Regions from separate parts of the Homo sapiens genome. Here region 2 is linked to region 1. Evidence: fine-mapped expression QTL. Tissue or cell type: whole blood. Region 1 holds a variant in brackets; the other region holds the start of a gene. All regions are shown on one strand. Distances are between the middles of the regions.

What was found. PIP is the estimated chance that this variant, and not a neighbour inherited with it, causes the effect.
Region 2: it holds the start of FIG4, and the variant in region 1 is fine-mapped to the expression of FIG4 in whole blood (TOPMed, PIP 0.99).

What each region holds. Positions count from the first base shown.
Region 1 is chr6:109,767,352-109,775,351 of GRCh38, forward strand. All of the region lies in intron 15 of FIG4 (FIG4 phosphoinositide 5-phosphatase), which reads left to right. Among named protein-coding and RNA genes, the nearest start is that of FIG4, 80 kb to the left of the region's middle. The variant C/A (reference allele first, on the strand shown) is at 4,346.
Region 2 is chr6:109,686,049-109,695,320 of GRCh38, forward strand. It overlaps FIG4 (FIG4 phosphoinositide 5-phosphatase), which reads left to right and starts at 5,248. Exons shown (of 23, transcript NM_014845.6): 1 at 5,248-5,453. The coding sequence starts at 5,388. AK9 (adenylate kinase 9) reads right to left here and starts at 5,154. Exons shown (of 41, transcript NM_001145128.3): 1 at 5,099-5,154. RefSeq lists a silencer at 965-1,165 and an enhancer at 4,732-5,201.

The DNA.
Region 1 (8,000 bases):
GACTTGTGAATACTACATGTAACAGGGTGTTGAAATGGTGCTTTTCCTGCCTCCATTCTGATGGAATTGCCAATACAATAGGTATCACAGACCAAAGTGATTGTGAGACAAACCCCCATGCACAGAATTTATGAAGGAAGTGCTCAGTGATTGATTTCATGAGTCTTCAGCTCTTGTACCAGATTAAGGATAGAAAAGTTTACATAATATGGAGAAGATTAGTAAAGAGGTCCTTGGGGCTGGGCGTGGTGGCTCATGCCTGTAATCCCAGCACTTTGGGAGGCCGAGGTGGGCGGATCACGAGGTCAGGAGATCAAGACCGTCCTGGCTAACATGGTGAAACCCCGTCTCTACTAAAAAAATTACAAAAATTAGCCAGGCGTGGTGATGGGGGCCTGTAGTCCCAGCTACGCGGGAGGCTGAGGCTGGAGAATGGTGTGAACTCCGGAGGCAGAGCTTGCAGCGAGCCGAGATCGCGCCACTGCACTCCAGCCTGGGCGACAGAGCAAGACTCCATCTCGGAAAGAAAAAAAAAAGGTCCTTAGGAGTGAACTATTGCCTGCAATAACACCCACCCTCAGTGAAAAGAGAGTGGGCTTCAACAGGACTCTGGGTGAGCTTGACATGGTATCCTGCTGTTGAAGAGACGCAGCATGTAGGCCTTGGACTGTTGCACAGCAGATCTGAAGCAGAGGGATGGGCTGAGGAGAGTGTGCCACATTGGGAATTGTCTGCATTCCTCCAGTTGGGTGGGCCAAAGGATACTTGAGTGTTGACTGGTAACCGGATGTGGGCCTCGTGGAGGAGGGTGCCAGCATGGGGTTGGCCTGGGTCCTGGCCAGTAAGGCCCCTGGAAGGACAGAGAGACCTTAGCAGCAAGATCCAGGAGGTAAACACTGGATACCTAAGGAGCCAAGGAAGGAATTATAAGAAACTGCCTGATAAAAGGGAATTGTAAGAGAGTCCCCAGTGCTGGCAGCTTCAGAAGCATCTGGGAAAGCATCCATCAGAGTCAGCTGTCCACATTTTCTAGGCCCAGAGAGTTTGCAAAGCTGGTCTGTTATGCTCCTGTCCAACTGTATTAGTTTTCTGCGCTGTGTAACAAATGACTGTAAATGTAGCAGCTTAAAACAGTACACATGCATTATCTCACAATTTCTGTGCATCAGAAATTTATGCACAACTTAACTGGGTCCCCTGCTTAGGGTCTCTCAAGGCTGCCATTGAGAAAGAACCACTTCCCAGCCCACGTGCTGGCAGAATTCAGTTCCTTGTGGCTGTAGGACTCATAGCAGCGTGCTTCTTCACAGCTGACAATAGGATGAGTGTGCTGGCAAGACTGAGTCTTACAAATGTAATGTAATAATGGGAGTGACATCCCGTCATCTTTGCCATATTTCTTTGGTCAGGAGCAAATCATAGGTGCCCCTGCCCACAAACACGGGGGAAATCCACATCCATTTCCTAGGGCTGCTGTATCAAAACAGCACAAACCGGTGGCTCAAAACAATAGAAATGTATTTTCTTGCAGTTCGGGAGGCTAGGAGTCTGAAATCTAAGTGTTGACAGGGCCATGCTCCCTCTGAAAACCCAGAGAGGAGAATCCTCATCGGCTACTTCTGTCATGTGCTAATACGTACATATCCCTCAGGGTGTATATCACCATGAAAAAGGGCATCTGTTCTTTTGCCCTCTCCTGTGGTCGTTGTCCCTGTAATAGGGGTCATTATTGACACTTAAGGATCAAGTAATGTGCTTTTTTTTTTTTTTGAGAGGGAGTCTCGCTCTGTCTACAGGCTGGAGTGCAGTGGCTCAAACTCGGCTCACTGCAAACTCCGCCTCCCGGGTTCAAGCGATTCTCCTGCCTCAGCCTCCGGAGTGTAATGTGCTTTTTAATAAGACTAGAGGACGGACAGAATGACTGTGTAGCTGTCCATGTTTAAAAAAGAAAGGAGTAATATAAAAGATAAAGATATTCTGAGAAAATGATGTGCACAAATGGAAAGGTAAGGCAAAATTATGCACAACTGAAAGAGGAACTACCGTGAAAGGAATGATTTTATGAATAATGTGGCTAAAACAGGCTTCTTTATTTTAAGAAGCATGATATCATTGGGGTGTACAACTTATTTTTAAATTACAATGGGTATTATATAATGGTGGCAATATAGAAGAATTTTCTTTAAACCACTCAAGACAACTTTGCAAAACTTAATCAATCTTTTCATGTTATGCCTCTGGGCTAGGCAGGAACATACTGATAAACTAGATTAAAAAAAAAAAAAAGCGCTGGGCACAGTGGCTCACACTTGTAATCCTGCACTTTGGGAGACCAAGACAGGAGGGCTGCTTGGCCCAGGAGTTTGAGACCAGCCTGGGCAACATAGTGAGATCCCATCTCTACAACAAATACAAAAATTAACCAGGCATGGTAGTGCACACCTGTAGTCCCAGCTATGTGAGAGCCTAAGGGCACAGGATCCCCTGAGCCCAGGAGTTCGAGGCTGCAGTGAACTATGATCATTCCATTGTACTCTAGCCTGGGTGACAGAGTGAGACTGTCTCTCAAAAAACAAGCAAACAAAAGCAACCAGAATAGTGAAATTAGGTTGTTAGGAATTTTACCCTTGGTTTATGTGGATGGACTGATGCTATGGGGTCAACTCACCTGACCCTTTTTTCTATTCATTTTAAAAACTGTTCTTGAGGCTTCACATGCTAGCATGCATGTTGGTCTAGGAAGCACCTTTTAGTTTTTAATATAACTAGTTACATAGGGAGTTGGAGGATGCTTTACAGGGAAAGCATAGGTATCTCTTCAGATGTTAGGGAGAGCTTTTAATTCCCTTAAGGGCCTTGCTAAGCTCTTTCTATTTTTTTTTAAATGCAAATTTTTAAGCCTGGATTTTCTTGCTGGAGCTTGTTGAATTTAAATCCTATTATAAAAAAAAGATAAGAAACCTACAGCAGTTAATAATAGATCTGCTGTATATACGTGTGTGTGTGTGTATATATATGCCTAACATAAATATGTACACCCACATGCGTGTGCATAATTTGAATGTAGTGAATGTGTGTATGCATGCATGGAGGGGAATCATGTTCTCAACAGGGATCTAAAGAGAAAAGCTCCCAAGGTGTGTTAGGTTGTTTTTGCGTTGCTATAAAGAAATACCTGAGACTGAGTAATTTCATAAAGAAGAGAGGTTGAATTGGCCCATGATTTTGCAGGTTGTACAGGAAACATCGTGCCATTATCTTCTCAGTTTCTAGGTGGGGCCTCAGGGAACTTTTAATCCTGGCAGAAGAAGGGGGAGCAGGTGTCTCACATGGCAAGGGGTGAGGGGAAGGAGGTGCCACACACTTTTAAACAACCAGATCTCTTGAGAACTCACTATCGCAAGGAGTGCATCAACCCAAACACCTTCCGCCAGACTCCATCTCCAAAATTGTGGATTACATTTCAACACCAGAGTTCGGCAGAGACAAATATCCAAACGATATCACAGGGTCAGGGTTTCAAAGCTTATCACGTGTGGAAGACAGTGATCCCAGAAGATGGTGCTGAGGTGGCTTCACCTGGCATTATGATAGTACTCTAAAGGACTGCCAGCAGTTTCTTCCCCTTTCTGCTCACTGCTGAAAGAGGGACATCAAAGGGAACATGCTGAGAACATTTTAATTTATCAAGAATAGTGAGATAGCCTTCTGAGGTTATCCTTCAAACAGCAGATTGTGAGTGAATAAGCTGTATTTGGCAATAGCAGAAATAAAACAGTTGGAAAAATGTTTTGTTTTAATAACGTTTGTTTTAATACCCTTGGTAACTTTTGTTAAAGCCCAACTCTTCACCTCTTCTGCAACCAAAGCAGTTGTACATGGCAAGAGAAAAGTTTGTAATTTATTACTCTTAAACAGACTACAGTTCTCCAAAGGACAACGGACTGTCCTGTGACATTTCCATAGTAAGTTCATTCTTCCCCTCTCCAAAATGACTATTTCATAACTTGTCCTCTCTCCTTAAAACTACAACACCTCAGTCTCATCTGATGACCTTGCTTCGTGCTTCAGTGAGAAAATAAGTTATTGAAAGGGAACTTCCTCTAATTCTTTTTTTTTTTTTTTTTTTTTTTTTGAGACAGAGTCTCGCTCTGTGGCCCAGGCTGGAGTGCAGTGGCACTATCTCGGCTCACTGCAAGCTCCGCCTCCTGGGTTCATGCCATTCCCCTGCCTCAGCCTCCCGAGTAGCTGGGACTACAGGTGCCTGCCACCGCGCCCGGCTAATTTTTTGTATTTTTAGTAGAGACGGGGTTTCACCATGTTAGCCAGGACTTCCTCTAATTCT[C/A]CCATCAAATGCAGAGGGCGTCCTTTTCTGCACCCATAGTTTCTACCCTATATTGTATTACAATGCTTGTGGTGGCCCTGCTCCATCTTAAGTGAAACCTTGCCTTTTTCTTTGAATCCCATGCCTTCTTGTGTTCCCTAACTATATGCTTGTTGCTGTACATCATCAGTTTCTCTGTCTCTAATGCATCATTGCCATTAACATAAAAGCATACCTTAGCATTTTCCATCCACCCTTTCCAGCTATTCCTAATCCCACATGCCCCTCCAGCCACAGTCCTATTTTTCTGCTCTCATGAGCAAAACCTCTTGAAAGGGTTGTCTCCACTGTGTTCTCTCTACCTGCTCCACTTGGCAACTGCCCTGCCATGACACCGAAACTGTACTTGTCCAGGTTACCAACAATTCCCACATTGCCAAATCTAATGTTTACTCTTCTGACTCCATCTTACTCAACCTTTCAACAACTTTCATCACAGTTGACCACTTCCTCTTTCTTAAACTTCACTTTGTGAGATCTCTCAGTGGGATATTGAGATCTCTGTCAATAGGAGAGAGTCTCAGTCTCCTATTGACTTCCCCTGCTGTGTTTCTAAACCTTTCTCTTTTTCCAGTTTTGTCCTAGGGATATCACATTCAGCTTTTGACTACCATGCATTTGACACTCAGATTTTTAGCTCTAACTTTAACTTCTCATGAACTCCAGACTCATTTATCTAAATGTCTACCTAGCATCTCTGCTGGGATATTGAATTAGTTTTTTTGTTTTTTGTTTTTTGAGATGGAGTTTTGCTCTCGTTGCCCAGACTGGAGTGCAATGGCGCAATCTCGGCTCACCACAACCTCTGCTTCCTGGGTTCAAGAGACTCCCCTGCCTCAGCCTTCCGAGTAGCTGGCATTACAAGCATGTGCCACCACCTGGCTGATTTTTATTTTTAGTAGAGACAGGGTTTCTCCATGTTGGTCAGGCTGGTCTTGAACTCCCGACCTCAGGTGATCTGCCCGCCTCAGCCTCCCAAAGTGTTAGGATTACAGGTGTGAGCCACCATGCCTGGCCATTGAATTAGTTTTTTATCATTGCCATGACAAATTACTACAAACTCAGTGGTTTAAAACAATACCCATTATCTTAGAGTTTCTGAGGATCAGAAGTCTATGGACACAGCATTACTGAGCTGTATTCTCTGCTTAGGTTCTCACAAGACTAGAGTAAAAATGATGTCACATGACGTTAAAATGAAGTCAAAATGTCAGCTGACCTGGGCTTTTACCTGGAGGCTTCCTGGCTCATTCTCATTGTTGGCAGAATTCCATGCAGCTATTGGACTGATGTCCCATGTCCTTGCTGGCAGTTGGCTGGGGGCCACTGTCAGTTCCTAGAGGCTGCTGCATTTCTTGGCTTGTGGCCTGCTCTATTTTAAAGCCTACCACAGTGCACCAAATACATCTTGTGCTTCAAATCTCTCTGCCTTCCCCTCCTGCCTTCCTCTTCAGCCTCTAAAGGATTAATGTGATTACAGTGGACCCAACCAGATGATTTAGGATTTTTCTATCTTGCAGTTGATGATGAGTAACCTTAATTACATCTGCAAAGTCCTTTTTACCATGTAGTAGAAAATATTCATGGTATGATACTAGGGAGCAAAGGTCTTGGGGGCCAAATTTCTTCCTACCACAGAAATCTAACAAAATCACAAACTTACCATTTCTGAGACAGAAACTCTTGACTCTGTCTCAAGTCCGTTTCTCTACTTGTTTTTTCTACTTCAATACCCATTGATCAATTCAGAAAACCTAGGAATTCTCCCTGCATTATTTCTTTTCCTCATCACTGTTCCCCAATCCCATCTGTCAACAAATCTTGTTGGTTATACCTCCAAAATAATATCTTCTGTGTTTCATCCCTACTTCTGACACGCTAGTCCACACAGCCACGGCCATCCACTGTTATCTGGATGGCTGCAGGGGTTTGCTATTCTTGTTGTTTGTTTGTTTGAGTGAAGTCTTACCCTGCCACCCAGATTGGAGTGCAGTGGTGCTATCACAGCTTACTGCAGCCTTGACTTCCCAGACTCAAGTGATTTTCCCACCTCAGCCTCCTGAGTAGCTGGGACCACACTCGTCTAATTTTTATTTATTTATTTATTTATTTTTTCTGTAGAGATAGGGTCTCCCTATGTTGCCCAGGCTGGTTCCTAACTCCTGGGCTCAAGTGATCCTCCCTCTTTCCAGCCTTCCAAGTAGCTGGGACTATAGGCGTGTGCCACCATGCCCAGCTCATATTTTTTATTATTTTTGTAGAGACAGAATCTCCCTGTGTTCCCCAGGCTGGTCTCAATCTTGTGAGCTCAAGCGATCTGCCTGCCTAGGCCTCCCAAAGTGCTGGGATTACAGGCATGAGCCTCCATGCCTGGCCATTTTTTTCAACTACTAAAGTATATATGTTAATTATACAAAGTACAGAATGGCTCACAAATAAATCATATGATCCCCACCTTCCAGAGATAGCCACTTGTATATTTAGGGGAACATGATCCTTCTGGTTTTACTATACCTGTAATTTATAATATGCTTTTGCTCTTTTAGATAATGTAATGAATCTTTATAACCTTAAATATTCTTCTATAACATGATTTTTAGTAGCCCTATGGTACTCTATCTTTGAGAAGCATCATAATTTAGTTATTTGCTTTGTGCATTTAGAGTTGTTCTAAACAAACATCTTTGAACATATACCTTTTTGCATATTTTGATCTTATGAAAAGTTCAGAAGCAAATTTATTAGGTCAGAGGGTAAAAATAATTTTTAGGGCTTAAAATATCTATCTATATATATTATATAGATATATATTTGCCAAATTGCCTTTCAGAAAGGATGTAAACAGTTAATGTTCCCCTTGGCAGAGTATGGGAGTGCCTATTTTGAAATGTATTTGCCAACTTAACAGACAGAAAATGGTATGTTGTTCTAATTTGCAGTATTTGATAACTAGCGAAGTTGGATTTTTATATATCCATTGGCTGTTTCTGTTTCTTTTGAAAATTGTGTGTACCTGTTTTTCTATTAGGGGTTAATCTGTGTCTTTCCTACATTTAGTTGGTATTTATTTCAATGTCTGATGTGAGGTAGGGGTCTAACATCATTGTCCCTTCCACCCCCACCCCAATACTATTGTACTGTTTATTGAATAATACTTCCTTTCATTGCTGATTTCAGAGGACACTGTATCATAAACTTAATATTAGAATAAGAGCTATTTCAGTTCAAAAATGAATTTTTTTCTCTAATTAAAAAGAATTGTTATATTTAAACCTGATCTATTTAAATGTAGTCAGTAGTAAAATTGGCTAATGTTTAACCTGTTTGAATGGTATTTGGTGCATATTCTTTCTTCCCTTCAAGCACAATTAAACATAAAAGTGGCTAATCATTTCGCCCTCTTGTTATCCACAACCACAGAGAGCCTACCAGTTTTAAACCCTTGTTCATATCCAGAGTACCACCATCTTCCTGGAGGTGATTGTTTTATTTGCAGTCAGAAGTAGCCAGGAGAAGATCCTTGGGCTCATTAGGGCTGGCCTTATATCTCAAGCTTAGTAAGTGACCGTAAACATCATACATGTATTTTCAGTTGCAGCAGCAGTACTTCCAAAAA
Region 2 (9,272 bases), 81 kb before region 1:
CCTTTTCAATCCCTATCAAGAAAGAGGATCGGAAGCAATTTGTATTCACTTAGAGCAGTGACAGTGAACATCCAGTCTTACCCAAGGACTCTCCTGCTGTTTGAGACAATATAGTATAAAGGGGTCTTGATCCACAATATTGACAATATCAGACCTAGTGAGCAGGAAGTTGCAAGTGTCCCGGATCCCCTTATAAAGACACATGAGCAGTAAGTATAAAGTGAGAGATAAACCTACAAAGTTTGAAGGTCTTATTACTTTGGTAAAGTTTTAAAAGGCCAGTGGTCTGGGACATTCTGTCCAAGGTAAAGGATGAGTTACTGTACCTTGTACCTTCAACCTCTAAAAAAGAGGCACAGTATTTTGCAGGCCTCTTTAGTTTTCAAAGAGAGCATAAAGCGCACTAAAGAATACTGTTTTGACCCATTTAGTGGGTGACATGGAAAGCTGTCATTTTTGAGTGGGGCACACAGCAAGAAAGAGCTCTGTAGTTTTAGGTTGTAGTACCAGAGGCTTTGCTTCCTGGGCCATACATCTGGCTAGATCCCACAATACTAAAGGTCCCACAATGCTGTGGTATGTAAGGATACCTTCTGGAGTCTTAGGAAAGCCACAACAGGAGCCTCTCTCTGTAGATCCTTGCTGTCTGCAGCAGAGAATAATTCCCCATTCAAAAAACAGCTCTTGGCATGCTCTTGGGCTCTGGTAGAGAATGAATGCCTGGTCATGGGATATCAAGTGACTATGCAACTGGAAGTATCCACTATGAGCTGGTTATGTCAGACAAGTCAAGTCCTAAAGTCAGGCAGGCACTGCAGCAACCCATTAAATGATAAAAATGGAACAATGGGATCAGGCTCAAACAGGTCTTCAGGGCACAAATAAATTTCAAAAATAAGCAGCCCAGATGCCCATGTCACCTGTCTCATGCACCAATGTCTCTTTCAGCTCACACCTCATGTGGAATTCCCTAAGAAGAGCTGACAGAAAATGAAAACAAAATTCATGGATGAATCACAATATACTGGTAAAAGCTGTAAATGTAATGCTTCCAGACATGAGTTCCTCTCACAAGTGGCCCTGAAAAATGGTGATTAGGGGAAATCTTCCTGGCAGGCAGAGCTTTAAGCAGTATTCCTAGGCCCTCAATTTGGAGGACAATGCGGATTGGTTTCATCAAGGGCCTAGAAGGTACAAGATCAGAAGGTAAGAGAAAAAGAGTTCTGGGGAAGAAGCATGTGATTGGGCCTATGAGGGTGGTGTAGCAAACACACCCTAATCTGACCTCCAGTGAGTCACACCCTTGCATAATCCTCTTCCTTTGAGTGGGAGTGGGGTCTGTAACTTGCTTCTAAATAGAGCAAAGGTGACAGAATGTCTGTCTCATGAATATGCTACATGGTATAAGACTCCATTTTAGGGGACTGGAGGGAGACTTTCTGTTGGCTTGGAAGAAGTAAGCTGCCATGTTGTGAGAGGACCACGTGATGAGGAAGAGTGGGTGGCATGTGAGTGCAGCCCCTGCCAACAGCTGGTAAGAAAACAGTGACCTCAGTCCTACAACCACAAAACGATGATGCTTGCCAACAATGTGAATCAGCTTGGGAGTGGATTCTTCCCTAGTCAAGTCTCCAGATGGAAGCACATCTCAGCCAACACCAGATTGCAGCCTTGTAAAACCCTGAGCAGAGGACCCAGGTGAGTGATGCCAGGGCTCCTGGCCATGGAAACCGTGCGATCACAAATGTGTGTTGTTTTAAGCTGCTAAATTTGCAGTAATTTGCTATGCAGCATAGAAAACTAATGTAAGTGGATGTAAAATACATAGATATTTGTATCTCAGAAAGCATCCACCTCAGAAGAGGCACTGAAAAAACCAGGTGGACAGGATAATTTATCCAGTAGACATGAGCCAATCTTTGCTTCTGGTCACCTCAATGCTTGCATAATGGGTTTGTAAATGAAGTAGGCATGGTGGCAGGGATGAAGGTGATGAAGGATAGGCATGGGCTCATATCAAGGCCTCCTTTCACCAGGCTGGTTTAGCTACACTACTGCTGCTGAATGTTCTACCTGTTCATGGCAGAGACCTGTTCATATTAAGCCCTCAATACGGTACAACCCCTTTAGGAGACAAAACATTCATTCAGTGACAAATTGATTACAAATTGAGACCTGTTCATATTGAGCCCTCAATATGGTACAACCCCTTTAGGAGACAAAACATTCATTCAGTGACAAATTGATTACACAGGACCCCTTCACCTTTAAAGGGGCAAGTGACAAATGCTCCTAATATGGGCTTGTTTTTCCTACCTGCAGTGCCTTGGCCAGCACCACTACCTAAAGGTTTAGAGTATGTCTCATTTATCTTCATGAGATCTCATATACCATTGCCTTGGATCAGAGGACCCTTTTTACAATACCACTTTACCTAGAAGCTACTGGTTTGACAGAATGTTGGAATGGTCTCTTAAAGGCACAGCTAAGGCGCTAGCTTGGGATTGTGTGGGATTGAGACAATGTACTTCAAGATGAGGAACATGCTTTGAATCAAGGGCTGGAAGTAGGAGTGACCCCTCTCACTAATACTCTCAGTGATTGACTTGGGAAATTTGCACCTCACTTCTGGACAAGAGGTCCTGGGTCTGGTGGAGGGGAGAGATGGTTCTATCAGGGGACCCAGTAAAGGTTTCATTAAATCTTAAAACTACTGCTGCCACCTGGTCATTTTTGACTCCAAAAGCTCATAAGGAGTTATTGCACTGGCAGATGGAGATAGGGTTGCTGCTATGTGATTGGATGAGATTGGGGGTGCTCAGGGTGGTATGGCCATAAACTGCTAGATAAGTGGGATAGGGGATGCATTTCTTGAACTCAGGGGATTCTCTGAGACAGCTCTTGATGCTTTCATGTCCAGTGAATGGGTAATTGCAGCAACCAAAACCTTACAATGACACAGTAACCAAGGGCTTATGCTCCTCAGGGATGAAAGCTTGTTATCCTACTGGGCAAACACAGACCAGCAGAAGTGTTGGCCAAGAGTAAGGAAAATCTAGAATGATGTTAGAGGAAGGAGATGATCAATTAGAGACCTCAGATTAATTGCAGTAGTGGATTCTGCAGCTTGTCCCATTAATCTTTTTTTTTGTAAGTCCTTTTCTTTTAAAAATTGAGACTAGCCACTACCTTAAAGAATTAGGGTGGCATGGTGTGAACTTGATGTGGAGGAAGAATGGATACGAGTGCTGCAAAGGGTGGAATGTAGCAGCTGCTATTAGTGCCTCCCCCATATCCACTTGACATACACCTTTTCTATGCACGACCAGCCCAACTTCCAAAATGTTAGCATGTGCGACTTTTTGCCTAAGGGCTTTCTCTGGCTGCCAGAACCTACTCTCCCTGAACACAGGGTAGACTGGAAGTTCTAGGGCATCAATGTTCTGCCCTATCAGGCTTCATCCAATAACTGATGGAAGTTGGCGAATAAATACTCCAGCTTCCTTGCCCCTCAAGAGGGGATAACTGAGACATGCCTCCCAGTATTCCCTAGTGAATTCAGCCCACAGAGAAATTTCTCTGGTAATATTTCCTTTATTAGTTTTCTTCCCCTCCCTGCTGCTGTTTCCTGGGATTACGTCTCATATAAACAACCTGCCTTCAAAGTTTTGTCTTAGGATCTGATTCCGGGTGAAATAAACTAAGATAAAGTTAAAATGGAAGTGCTAAACTATAATAATTGAAAACTAGAATCCTTCAGGTATTTTAAGAGTTGCTATCCTAGATAAAAACACTGTGCAAACATTTAACTAATATTCAGAAGAGTTGGTTTCATTATGAAACAGAACACAGCTAACTATTTTTCCCAGTTAAAAGATCCAAGTCCAAAATGCCAGAACGGACACGGCCATCCTTCTAGTTCTTAATAAAAGGAGTACCAAACTACAGGGGGAAAGAAGCGCAAAATAACATAGACTTAAGTATTTCTTTACAATTTTTGTAATTTCTCAAATTTTAATTTACAATATGATCTTTGGTATTACATGAATGTTATCTGGGTATGCTATAATTCTATAATTTTTTTTTAAAGTTTCCTTACACTTAGCAGTTGAGAAGCCCTCTAGCAGAGGTTTCTGAGGTTTAGAGGTTTCCTGGGAAACCTAGAATTGCCGCCTAAGATAGGATAGCTGCCTCTCCCCTACATCTTATACTCTTGCAGTAGGTGTTCAGTAAATATTTGTGGAATAAATACTTCAGTCGTTGAAAGGAGACGTGGTTTTAAAAAGTGGATTTACAAAGAGACCGTTTTGCAAGAAAAGAAGCTGGTCTGGGGGTCCCCGCAGGAGGCGGGGTTCCGTGCAACAGATACCAAGATGCCTCCAGGGCGGACCACGACCCAGCGGGCCGCCGGAAGGCTCCTTACCTGGCCGCAGCCGGACCCTCCTCAGGGAAGCAACTGCCTCCAGGGACTCCGCGGGGCTGTCGGGCGGTTGCCGGGGAGACCTCTGGCCGCCACGCACCTGCTGCTTGGTGGGGCGGGGCCTCGAGAGGCGGGGCTGTAGTTCTTTGTCATTTCTTTTCCAATTCGAAATAGTCACTTTTGTACCTAATTTGGCATTTATAATTATAATACACTCATTTTCACAACTATGGAAGAGAGGGTACGCGCATGCCCATTTATGTCGCACACATGAAATGAAGAAACCTCATTTCAAGCGCGGCTCCGCCACACTGCGCTAGTCTCTGTCGACAACTTCAAGTGGCTAGCCTCACGCACAAACGTGTGGCAAAGCCACACTTTCCAGCTTTAGGTGATTTTAAAACAATTTCTTGGGCCACACAGCGTAGGTACAACATGGATTAGAGGTGAGGGGAAAACTGACACTCAGTGAAGGACCGTCAGAGGGCCGGCTTCCAGGAAAATGGGCCGCAGCAGGCAGGGAAAACACAAGGATCTATCCTGCAACTCGGAGAACCCTTTTCAAAAGAAGCTACCCAATCCCAAACCTTCCGCTTTTTTCCAAAGAGAGGGAGGAGATAAATAGACTCAATTAATCCGTCGACTTTTTCTCCGCCCATGTTTTCCTCCAATCCTTACCAAAGATGGTGCCCTTCGCTTCCTCTCTCGGCAGCACGCAGGTCCCGGGAGCCTCTACCCGACCTCTCTATGATACGTCCTCCAGCCCCGCTCCCGACGTGAGGGGCGGGGCTTGCCTGGAGGCGGGGCGCAGGGATCCGGAAACACCTGATCATCTATAGGTTTAGTGCCTAATGGGTGTTGTTCCTGGCTGGACTTGATGTCCAGGGCCTGAGGGGTTTTCTCGCCGAGTCTCCTGGGGCGGTCCGGAGGCTCGTGCCCTGTTGTGGGGCCCCCATTTGCCGCCGCCATGCCCACGGCCGCCGCCCCCATCATCAGCTCGGTCCAGAAGCTGGTTCTGTATGAGACTAGAGCTGTGAGTACCCCCTCGCGGCGGGGCGCAGGCGGGAGGATGGATGTCTGCCGGTGGGTGTGGGGCCGTAGGACAGAGGCTGTACTCTGCCTCCTCCTCCTTCCTCTCCAGTTCCCAAATCCCTGTCAAACACAGCCTTGGGGTAAGCTAGCTCCCTTGAGCTGTGCCTGGGCGCCTTTCCCCTATTTTGGTACCCTGGACATTGCAGCATTTGCAGGTCCACTTACAAGCCATGGCTGGAACACGCTGGAAACAGGTGCTTGTGGTACCTCAGGAACTGTTCATGAGGTTCTCTGTACGAGTTACTGGATTCTTTTCAGCTTTCAGAAAGTCTGTTAAAGTTCTAGAGTTCACAAGTTACAGTACAGGCAGGGGTATGAAAAAAATTTGAACTATGACTTGTAACTTATTTTTTCCTATTCCATGGTATACCATCACTGCGATTCATGTGAATTACACTTCTATTGGTGAACTTTTTGGTTCTCTTTTTTTCTTATTTGAAAGGAAAGGAAAACTTACTTTGTTTAAAGACAGATAATTTGTTTGGATAACATCTTGCTTTTCACTTGACTTTTTTCAACATAACATTTACTTTTAAAATTTTATTACTTTGAATGGCCATGTAAATAGTGAATAAGCAGATCAGTTTGTATTTCGATTACCAGTTCCTCAATTAAGGGAGAATGGTGTTTATATAACTTCATACTTGGTCCTTTCTGTGGGTGGAAAGCAAAGTTGGTACAGTATAGCTCTTCTAAATTGGGGTGCCACAGTGATATTAGGGACTGTGTTTAATATTACCCATTTCATGCTAACAAGATTGCATATGCCAGATATTTTCATAATGCTCTTCACTATGTTATAGAGTGCTTTATAAACTGTTTCTCTGAAACTTGGGTTGTCTCCATTAGAGGAGTATGAGAAGGCATTTAACAGTTTCTCAGTTATAACGTAGTCCTAATAGCACAATAACCTCTCCCTCAGGTTAACATGAGTAGAGAATTGTGGACCTTAAATTAATTTTGCTGACAACTTTGATTAGATCTAGAGCAGAAAATGACATTATCAAATATACTGTATTTGCAAGTATTTTCAGTTCTCTAATGAGACCCATAAAGAAGTATCATTTGTCATTGAAATGAAACCTATTTTCTGTAAAATATGCTGCTAAATTTCCCTCATTAGAAACATAAATAACTTTTTTTTTTTTCCCTTTGAGACAGAGTCTTGCTCTGTCACCCAGGCCGGAGTGCAGTGGTGCTATCTCGGCTCACTCACTGCAACCTCTGCTTCCCAGGTTCAAGAAGTTCTCGCACCCCAGCCTCCCAAGTAGCTAGGATTACAGGAATGTGACACCATGACCGGCTAATTCTTGTGTTTTTAATAAAAGACAGGGATTCTCCATGTTGGCCAGGCTGGTCTAAAACTCCTGGCTTCAGCCTCCCAAAGTGTTGGGATTACAGGCATGAGCCACCGCATCTGGCCGTAAATAAAACACAAATTTCAGCCCATTAAAAAGCTGATCACTCATGAGGACTGCGTGAGATATTAGTGTTCAGAAAGCACAATTCATATTATAGGGCTCTTCTGCTCAGAAATCTTCAGTGGTCCCAATTCTGAAGCAAGTAAACTCTGAATCCCTTAGTTGGCATTCAAAGCCATGTATTATTTGTCCTCAACTTGTCTATCTAGTTTTACATCTAATTTAATATCAATTAATGAAACATTTATTGAGGATCAACCATGTGCCTTCATATGCCTTATTCTGCAGTAAAACTGTATTGCTTTCAGTTCCCTATATCTGCCCTGTGTTTTTCTGCTGTTCTCTATTCTCTTAATGCCACACCCCCTCTTTTCCTGTCAAAACCTTGCTGATCCTCACAGCACATATCTGGTCATGCCTTGCAAACAGTAGTCTCTCAATAGATGTGGATTAAGGAGCTCTAACACAAAGAGATAGAGGTGTGTTCCAGAACTCAGCTGTGACCCCTCTCAACTGCCTAAGTAATGGAAACTAACTCTGGCCAGCTTAGAGACAAAAGGTAAATTTATCAGAGGGATGCTAGGGGAGCCATTGCATGGTATCCAGCTTCTGGAAAAGCAGGAAAGAGATAACAGGTTTGAGAACCCTCTCAGAGTACTGCCAAAAACAGTGTAGGTGCTGGGAGAAAAAATCTGATCGACTCAACTATGATTGGTTATCATCCCCTGAGTGGACAAATCATTCATGGCCAGGGGGGGTCTGGCAGGAATGATTTAGCTGTGGAATCAGGATCCTCTTTGTTTCAGCAAATGGTTGGGGCTGGGCAACCACCCTTGAAAATGTCTGCTGCATTGAATCACTGAGTCTCGGTTTTGTTAAATAATTTTTTTTTTTTGGTTAAAGATATAAGCAGAAAGGTTTTGTTTTGTTTTGTTTTGTTTTTACTAATAAGCTCAAAGTATAAATAAATAAGAAAAAGGCATAAAATTACAGGCAACTGGATAAATGCTATGAATTAAAAAAACAAAAACTGTAGTAGGTTGTAATAATGAGGATAATAGCTCAAAATATTCTACATATATTTTATTATTTAATCCTCATAAGACCTCTAAGAGATCATGCTGTTAATTCTACTACTATATATATTATTTAGTAAAGAAAAAAAATGAGGCAAAGATAATTTAAGGCAGTTACTTAACCCATTTATGCCAGAGGTTGCAAATTTTTTTGTGTGAAAAATCAGACCTTTGCGATGACCTTGAGCAGTAGGATATAAATAACTCCCACAAGCTTAGCGTTCCAATAACGGAACACTAGGCATAAGGTGTGGTGCAGGTGCTAAGAATGTATACTGGGGAAAGGACAGTCTCTTCAATAAATGGTGTTGAGAAAACTGGATATCCATGTGCAGAATGAAATAAGGCCCTTCTCTCTTGCCATATCCACAGATCAACTTAAAATGGATTAAAGGCTTAAGTGCAAGACCCAAAACTGTAAAACTACCAGAAGAAAACATAGGGGAAATGCTTCAGGATATTGGTCTAGGCAAAGATTTTATGAGTAAGACTTTAAAAGCACAGGGAACAAACCCAAAAATAGACAAATGGGACTATATCAAGCTGAATAGCTTCTGCACAGCAAAAGAAACAATCAACAGAGTGAAGAGGCAACCTATAGAATGGAGAAAATATTTGCAAACTCTTCATCCAAGAAGGGACTAATATCCAGAATATATGAGGAATTCAACAACTCAACAGCAAATACCCCCAGATAATCCAATTAAAAATGGGCAAGGATCTGAGTAGACATTTCTCAAAAGAAGATATACAAATGGCCAACAGGTATATGAAAAATTACTCAAGGTCACTAATTATCAGGGAAATGCAAATTAAAACCACAGTGAGATATCATGTCACCTCAGTTAAAATGGCTATTTTCAAAAGGACAAAAATTATCAAATGCTGGTGAGGATATGGAGAAAGGGAATTCTTATATAGTATTGGTGGTAATGTAAATTAGTATAGCCATTATAGAAAACAGTATGGAGGTTCCTCAAAAAACTAAAAATCCGGCAGTCCCACTACTGGGTGTGTATATGAGGGGATTTCAAAAAGTTCATGGGAAAATGGAATTAAAAGATAAAAATAACAAATGTAAACTTTATTTCTCAAGCTAACTTCCGTCAAGGTCAAGACATTTTTGTAACTAATGATACCAGCCATTTAATTCATCCACAAAGAACCGAGGGTCCTGGGAATTTAACCATATTGGTGCAGTCTTTTTTACTCTGTTAACTAAAGAAAAATGGGTGCCCTTTAAGGATTCTTTTTAAGATGAGG